Linked DNA regions of Homo sapiens. The protein of the gene in region 1 purifies or fractionates together with the protein of each later gene. This does not show direct contact. Each region holds a gene or a part of one and is shown on either strand. Other genes may lie near its edges.

What was found. Proteins that work in one complex are often made in the same cells at the same time.
Region 2: the proteins of ZNF292 (region 1) and ZNF280D purify together in Homo sapiens (affinity purification with mass spectrometry, with the first as the bait; one large-scale study listed by BioGRID). This does not show direct contact.

What each region holds. Positions count from the first base shown.
Region 1 is NC_000006.12:87,158,268-87,162,395, reverse strand, and holds part of ZNF292 (zinc finger protein 292), read right to left. Parts: intron 1-4,128. UniProt on the Homo sapiens protein: May be involved in transcriptional regulation.
Region 2 is NC_000015.10:56,726,492-56,730,619, forward strand, and holds part of ZNF280D (zinc finger protein 280D), read right to left. Parts: intron 1-4,128. UniProt on the Homo sapiens protein: May function as a transcription factor.

The DNA.
Region 1 (4,128 bases):
AAATGCTTAGTTTCAAAGATCTTGCAGTTATAATGTAACATGTATATAAACAAAAGAATCAACTTGTATCAAACTGATGAGACATAAAATATACAAAGAAATGTCCTAAATATGTAATCTAAACATTCTGTAGCTCTAACAGTTTTAATTTGGTTTTTATTTCTTATACCAATCAGGCACCAATAATGGCTAACAAAGGTAATGAAGACTAGCTCAAATAGTACCTCCTCAGGAAAGCCTTCCCTGATACCCCAGCCTGAAGTGCTTACTACCTACTTTGAACTCTTTAAGTTGCTATACATAAAATTAACTTACTCTCCTAAATATCCACTGATAATGAACTGATTAATTAGACCCAGCCATAGACTAGAATTACTATATACTATAATAGGGAAAGCCAAAAACTTACATGAGCAGCTATGGAATGAGCTAGAAGATGCTTTTGGGGGGAGGGAAAGCAAGATACAGTGTAGTTATCTTTATTTTCTTAAAAAGAGCAAACTAGTTCTGGAAACCATTAGGGGATTTGTCTTTGTGGAAATGAGACTGGAACTCTAGAATGGGAAAAAGATCAAGTTTTCATTGTATGCCCTTTCTCAGGGTGAATTTTAAAAAACCATTTCAATTAGTACATTTTCAATTTAAAACAAAACAAAACAAACAACAAAAAAGCAAAACCAGGCTGGGTGCAGTGGCTCACGCCTATAGTCCCAGCACTTTGGGAGACCAAGGTGGGAGGACTGCTTGAGCACAGGAGTTTGAGACCAACCTGGGCAATGTAGGGAGATCTTGTCTCCACAAAAAATTTTAAAGTTAGGCATGTTGATGTGCACCTGTGGTCCCAGCTACTCAGGCTGAGGCAAGAGGATCGCTTAAGCCCAGTTGGTCAAGGATGCAGTGAGCCGTGACTGTGTCACTGCACTCCCACCTGGGTGACAGAGTGGAGACCCTGTCTCAAAAAAATAAAAATAAAGCAAAACAATTTGTTAGTTAATACACTGCCTTTTGACATCTTTTCAGCTGTCATTTTGAAGTGATATTTAAATATTATCTTACTAATTTATATCCCACTAGTTGCCCGTATCTTTTATCTCCTATAACATCTAAACCTAGGTCCTTGCATATAAATGCTTTCTTAAAAGTACAGAATTTATTATATCAAAATGTCAAATCTTTTCTTTAATCAGGATAATTATGCTGAATTTGCTACCCTCTTTAACCTAGCAAAAGTTGTTTTACTAACTGTTTATGCAATTGCTTGTAATTTCTGCTAAGAAAGTAGAAAGTTTCTTGACCTCTCATGGTCAGTATAAATTATACTTAAATATTGTTGAATATCATTTACCTGGACCTGTTCCAAATAAAGTATATTTCTGGAGCTTAACTATCTCAATATGAAAAGAGTAGAAGGACTAAAAAAAAAAATCTTCTAGATATACTATTTTTCTTTCTGTTCAATGTTTCTGAAAAGGGTACTTAGAGGAATTACGCTTTCATTTGTTGGGACGGTCCTGATCACTTCAGAAAACTTAGCATTGAAGCTCATGGGCACTAAATGCCAGTACCACATCCCTAGTCATAGCAACATCCAAAAACCTGATCCCACATATTTCTAAGTGCCATCAAAGAGAGAACTGGAGGTAGGGAAAGTACTATGCCCAGTTGAGAAGCCCTGCTTATATGAACTAAGAAAATTATATATATATATATACACACACACATCATATATATGTATATATACACACACACACACCGTATACATGTATGTATACACACACACATCGTATATATGTATATATACACACAAACATATTTTTTTATTAGAGTCTCCTGTATCTTATATCCTCTGTAACATCTAAACCTAGGTCCTTGCATATATATACACACACACACACACACACACATATATATACAAACACATGTACGTATGTATACACATACACACACGACTGTAATTCAACCCTTCAAAACAACTGTCAGCCACCAGATCACTACTGATCAATGGTCAATAACAGTTACAATCAACCAGTCGGCCAGTCCAGTATATAGTGCTGTCAGCAAATATCATACTCCAACAAATCAACTATTACAATGGCCAATTTTTCCAACGAACTATTATTTTAAAATCTCTTTAGAACAACTCCTCTGTTGGAATGTTTCTTTTAAAACTCCCAAATAACCTCCCTCTTTACTGTACTCACCTCAGTGATAAAATATATAAATCATAGTTTACTACGATTATCTGTCTACCTTCCTCCAGAGACTATAAACTCTTTGAAGCCAGGGACCATGATCATCCTTGCCTAGCCTGTATACAGTAGATGTTCAATAGAAATGTTGAATGAGTGACTACTGGCCCAGTCTAATACAATTAACTAGTCTAAAAGGTTCCAATTATAACCAATTTTTGTATAATAAATACAGTAATAATCCTAAAACAAGTAAATGCAAGAAATTACTTCTGGTTATTCTATATACTTATTCTAAGTCAATTTTAAGAAAATGAGTTGGTTATATTGCCCATATTAAAGCTAACTTTGAAAAGATACAAGGAAATTTAAGAGCTGGGCATGGTGGTGTATGCCTGAGGTCTCAGCTACTTAGAAGGCTGAGACAGGGCCGGGCGTGGTGGCTCACGCCTGTAATCCCAGCACTTTGGGAGGCCAAGAGGGGCGGAACCAGCCTGACCAACAAGGAGAAACCCTGTCTCTAGTAAAAATACAAAATTAGCCGGGCATGGTGGCACATGCCTGTAATCCCAGCTACTCAGGAGGCTGAGGCAGGAGAATTGCTTGAACCCAAGAGGCGGAGGTTGTGGTGAGCCCAGATTGCGCCATTGCACACCAGCCTGGGTGACAGAGTTAAACTACATCTTTTTTAAAAAAAAAAAAAAAAAAAAAGAAAGAAAAGAAAGCTGAGACAGGAGGATCACTTGAGCCTAAGAGTTTGAGGTTGTAGTGTGCTATGATCATACCTGGGCAATGTAGCAAGACCCCATCTCTCAAAAATAAAATAAAATATATAAAAAAATTTAAAATTTATGACGGGCGCTCTACTATGCCCATCCTCTACTTACTCTTCCCTCCTCCCACTTAAGCTTTAAGCAAATTCTCATTTAAATAAGCAAAGGGGGGGCAGGTGGCTTATTTCCAGAATGAGCAAAACAACACTGTTAATAAGAAAAACATTTAATGCCTTTCGTTTCTATTCTGCTACTCAGAATTCAAAAAATCTATTAATCTTCTACCTCACTCAAAAATAAAAATCTATAAACTACGGATCATAAGCAACTCCTGTTTCTGTGGGTTTCACCACATTCTCCAGAAACTGAACTTTTGCTCATAAAAATTACATAGAATGTAAACTAATTCATTTTTTAAAGTAAATGCAAAACTAAGGGTTACACAAGCACTGAGCATCAACACTGACAGAATATTAATTCTGAAGCCCATTAACTTTGACAAACGTTTATTCATCTTTGCCTTCTTGAAGCGTGTGACTATCCCAGTTTTACAGGAAAAGCTTAAACAGAAAAAGTTAAATAATAATCTCAAGGTTAGAAACTAAGACATAATTTCTAGCTCCTAGTATCCCTGGTACTATATTTAGATTGCGCCAATAAATTCTTTAATTGTTAACCATTGCTTCACTCAACTTCGTATCAAAATGCTAGGTGATAATTGCTAAGATACAATTTTATTTTTATTTTTTATTTTTTTGAGACAGGATCTTTCTCTGTCACCCGGGCTGGAGTGTGCACAGTGCACCATCTCTGCTCACTGCAACCTCTGCCTCCCGGGTTCAAATGATCCTCCCACCTCAGCCTCGTAAGTAGCTGGGACTACAGGCACTCGCCACAGCGCCTGGCTAATTTTTTTGATTTGTTTTGTTTTTTGTATTTTTTGTAGAGAAGGGGCCACGCCATGCTGCTCAGGCTCAAGCGATCCGCCCAACTCGGCCTCCCAAACTGCTGGGATTACAGGTGTGAGCCACCTCCACCCCTGTAAATAAACATAAATAAACAATTGTTTCAAGTTACCTCCACTTGACAAGATCACTAACATAAATAGGTTACCTGAGAAACAAAACAAAAAACCCCACCCCAGAAAATGTTCCAGAGGAAATCAG
Region 2 (4,128 bases), on another chromosome or scaffold:
TCTATAACAGAATCCTTTTATCAATCTAAAATACATTATGGGATGTTAGTGGCTTTATTTTTCCTACATCTTGAAATATTTTGCTAACTCCATCATTCTAGGTATTATTTCACCATTGTTCATCAATTAATCCCAACTATGCTAAAAAAATAATAGGACTGCCTAAAAGAATAATACAACAGTGAAATAAATCATGACTAATGCATTAGCCTTAATTGTTCTCATTTATTTTCCAGTTTTCTTATAGTTTTGCAAAAATATTGCATCAATTTTCAAAGACATATGGAAAACTGAAGACATTTTTGTAGTCTATGTCAGAGAGGGAAAACAATTCCTCTATCACCTTTGGTTCAGTATCTCATGGCCTGTGAATTAAACTATGAAAAGACAGATTCACAAGAGAAGAAGCATACAATTTTTATTAATATTGACATGCACAGGAGTTCACAGAAAAGAAGTGAAACTCAAACAAGTGGTTAGACGTAGAGGCTTTTATACTATTTTAACCCCCCCAAAAAAGGGAACTTGGAATTTCAGGGACAATAAACCATGGGAAAGTGACTAGAAAAAATGGGAGAACTAATGGAAAATAACGGTTATTTTAGTAAAATTTGTTTATACAAACTCATCTCTGCCTTGACTCTCAATCTCAAGGGAAAAGAGTTGCTCTTCCCTCCCTGTTATAAGAAGGAAACTGGCTGGGCGTGGTGGCTCATGCCTGTAATCCCAGCACTTTGGGAGGTGGGTCACCTGAGGTCAGGAGTTCGAGACCAGCCTGGCCAACATGGCAAAACCCCGTCTCTACTAAAAATACAAAATTAGTCAGGCATGGTGGCGCACGCCTGTAGTTCCAGCTACTCGGGAGGCTGAGGCAGGAGAATCACTTGAACCCGGGAAGTGGAGGCTGCAGTGAGCTGAGATCACGCCATTGCATTCCAGCCTGGACAACAAGAGCAAGACACGGTCTCAAAAAGAAAAAAAAGAAAAAAGATAGAAATTAATGCCCTGCTACTACTAGGCAAATAAGGGGAGGGCACAGAACTCTTCCAGCATCTACTGACTCTCAATTGCCTTCAACTCAAAATAATCCTCATGCGTAAGTGGCAGATTCTGATCCCCTTCATCTGTTTCTAGTTTTCACTGAATACAATTAAGAACTCAGACTTCATTTTCTGCCCAAAATGGAAGAGAAGAAAATTAACAGAGGAAGGCATTTCACAACTATTAGACGAACCAGAAGATTAACACAAAGATAGACAGCAGCACTTTAGACTCTTAATGATGGTAGTGAAAATGACTTTATAAGGGAAATCTCAGACTGAGTCCTTGGATGAGTTACTTTAGATAAATTCCCTCAAACTTAATCAATGAGAGAATAACGTATTTCTAAAAACAAAAAGGAAATACGGCATTCTCATCCAGTGGGAAGAACTTCATCACACAATATTTTTACATTAAGAATATGGACCATGCTGTTCTGCTCAAAGAAAATGTGACAGTCTTTCATCCTTTACAAGTGTGTGCTAAAATTTTACTTAATACATTTTTTTTTTTTTAAGAGACAGGGTCTCACTCTGTCACCCAGGCTGGAGTGCAGTGACACAATTGCAGCTCACTGCAACCCAGACCTGAAGCGATCCTCCCACCTCAGCCTCCCAAGTACCTGGGACCACAGGCACATGCCACTACACCCGGCTAATTTTTTATTTTTTGTAGAGACAAGGTCTTCTTATGTTGCCCAGGCTAGTCTCAAACTCCTAGGCTCAAGCAATCCTGCCTTGGCCTCCCAAAGTGCTGGGATTACAGGCATAAGCCACCACACCCGGCCTTGATACAACGCTTAAGTGCCCAAGTATTGAATGCAGGGGTATGCAAAGGTGACTGGAAGGAAATAGAAAATATAGACATTTTAAAAAATTCATTGGATTGATCATTCTAGTTAGTTGCTCATAAATCTGAAATTGAAAAATCTTGCAATTGTGGAGCAAAGAAGATGGCCGTCCTGTCTTCAACAAAATTATGAACCATCAAAGGTTTCAAAAATTCTTCCAGTATTGCATTTTGATGATGTACATGCAAAAAGACAACCCAGAAGGAATGACAAGCAAGAACCTATCAGGGAAGCATTTGAAATTTAGAATCAGTATTTATAAGACAAATAGTTCCAGGGTCTTGTATGAAAGTTGCTAAGTACAGACAGTCTCCAACTTAAGATGGTTCAACTTACAACAATTTTCAACTTTATAATGGTGTGAAAGTGCATTCATTACTTCCAGTACTCATACAACCATTCTGTTTTTCACTTTCAGTACAGTACTCAATAAATTACATGAGATACTCAACACTTTATTATTAAAAAATAAGCTTTGAGTTAGATGATGTTGCCCAACTGTAGACTAATATAAATGTTCTGTGCATATTTGAGGTAGGCTAAGCCAAGCTACGATGTTCAGTATGTTAGGTGTATTAAATGCATTTTCAACTCATGATACTTTCAACTAATGACGGGTTTATCAAGGATGTAACCTATCGTAATTCAAGGAGCATCTATAGTTAATTCCATTCAGATGATGTTGCCCATTTCAGGTAGAAATACCTTCAAAAGGTGAAAAACATGAAATGAAAATCTGAGCAACAGGTGACAATGAAATATGATAAGCTTGGACAATGCAGATCTACACAGAGATTGGGAAAAGGCATGAAAGTAGAATCAAGATTGATATATACGAAATGACAGAAAAATTTCAAAATTCTGTCAGACATATAACTTGTGACAAATTTTTTACAAATTTAGACTTGGCTGAATATCACACAGCATCAAACTCTCCTTAGTTGGCACTGTTAGGAAGAACAGCATTGAACTTCTGTGAATTTTCACAAATGGAAAAGCAAAAGAAGTCAACTGCACAAAATCTGGATTTCGAATATAATTCATGATTCTTATTGTCCTAAGGAAAACTATACCTACTCTTCTCAGCTCAGTGCATTCTCAACCATCAATGAATTTTAAAATCCTTGCATAAATTAATCTGAAGTGATCTGTATTACAAAAAGACTACAGAAGTGACACATTCAAAAAGTGGGTCAGAAACAATACTTGGAAGAGAATGATTTGAAGATGGCTTATGACTGATATTAGTTCAGAGTATACTTTCATTGTACGGGAAAAGCTTCAGTTACAAAACTGGAAGTTACCAAGAAGAAATTCCTCATGCAACTAGGAAAATAACTTGCAGAAAATAGGAAGGGAATGTTGTCTTACCCTCTAACCACAATGATTTCTGCACAGATCTGAAAATGGGAAGAAAGAAAGATGTTCTTTGTACAGATACAGAAACTCAAAAAGAAAAAAATGTGTGTTACAATGAGAATGTTTATGCAAAGCGTTCAAATGTGATGTATATTTGTTGTAGGAGTGTTATGTAATTAAATGCATGAAATAGATTTTTTATTTTTTATTTTTCTAAGTACATACAAAGATATCTGCTGTATTGAAATTCTTATTAAAAGCTCCAATAAGTTGTTTTACATTATGCTTTATTTTTACTCCTATAAATTATACATAATAACGTAAAATGCAAAAAAAACCAGTCCCTTTTGACCCAGATGATAGTGATAATTGTACACTTTTCCTCGTATACTGAGGGTTAAGAGAATCCTTAAAATTGCTCTGGAGAAATAAATCAAAATTCTAAACATACAATTTTTGATATAAGGCACTGATTAAATCAAGTCATTATTTAAATCACTATTTAAAGCAATCTGAAAATTCAAAGTTTTTAATTCCTTTCTAAAGCAAGAAAAAAACTATTCAGGATTTATATATTTAATTAGTGAATATGTCGTAAGTATTCCTCATCTTCCAAAACTTGCTTTTGGAATAACAAAGTATGTTGTCAATAGAAATATCCAATTTCCTGTCACCTAAAACTACAGTTGACTTTTCATTTGTGAAAACTGCTATTTCAGTGAGCCAATGCTGATTAATAGAACACTGGAATGAAAAAGGACTGGATTAGTAGCCTAACTGGACAGATGTTCCAGTTGAAGCACTTGCAATCCTCCAACATCAAACTACTTCAGAACTTTTCTATTTACCATAGCTTACTATGGCTAAAATGGTCCTAA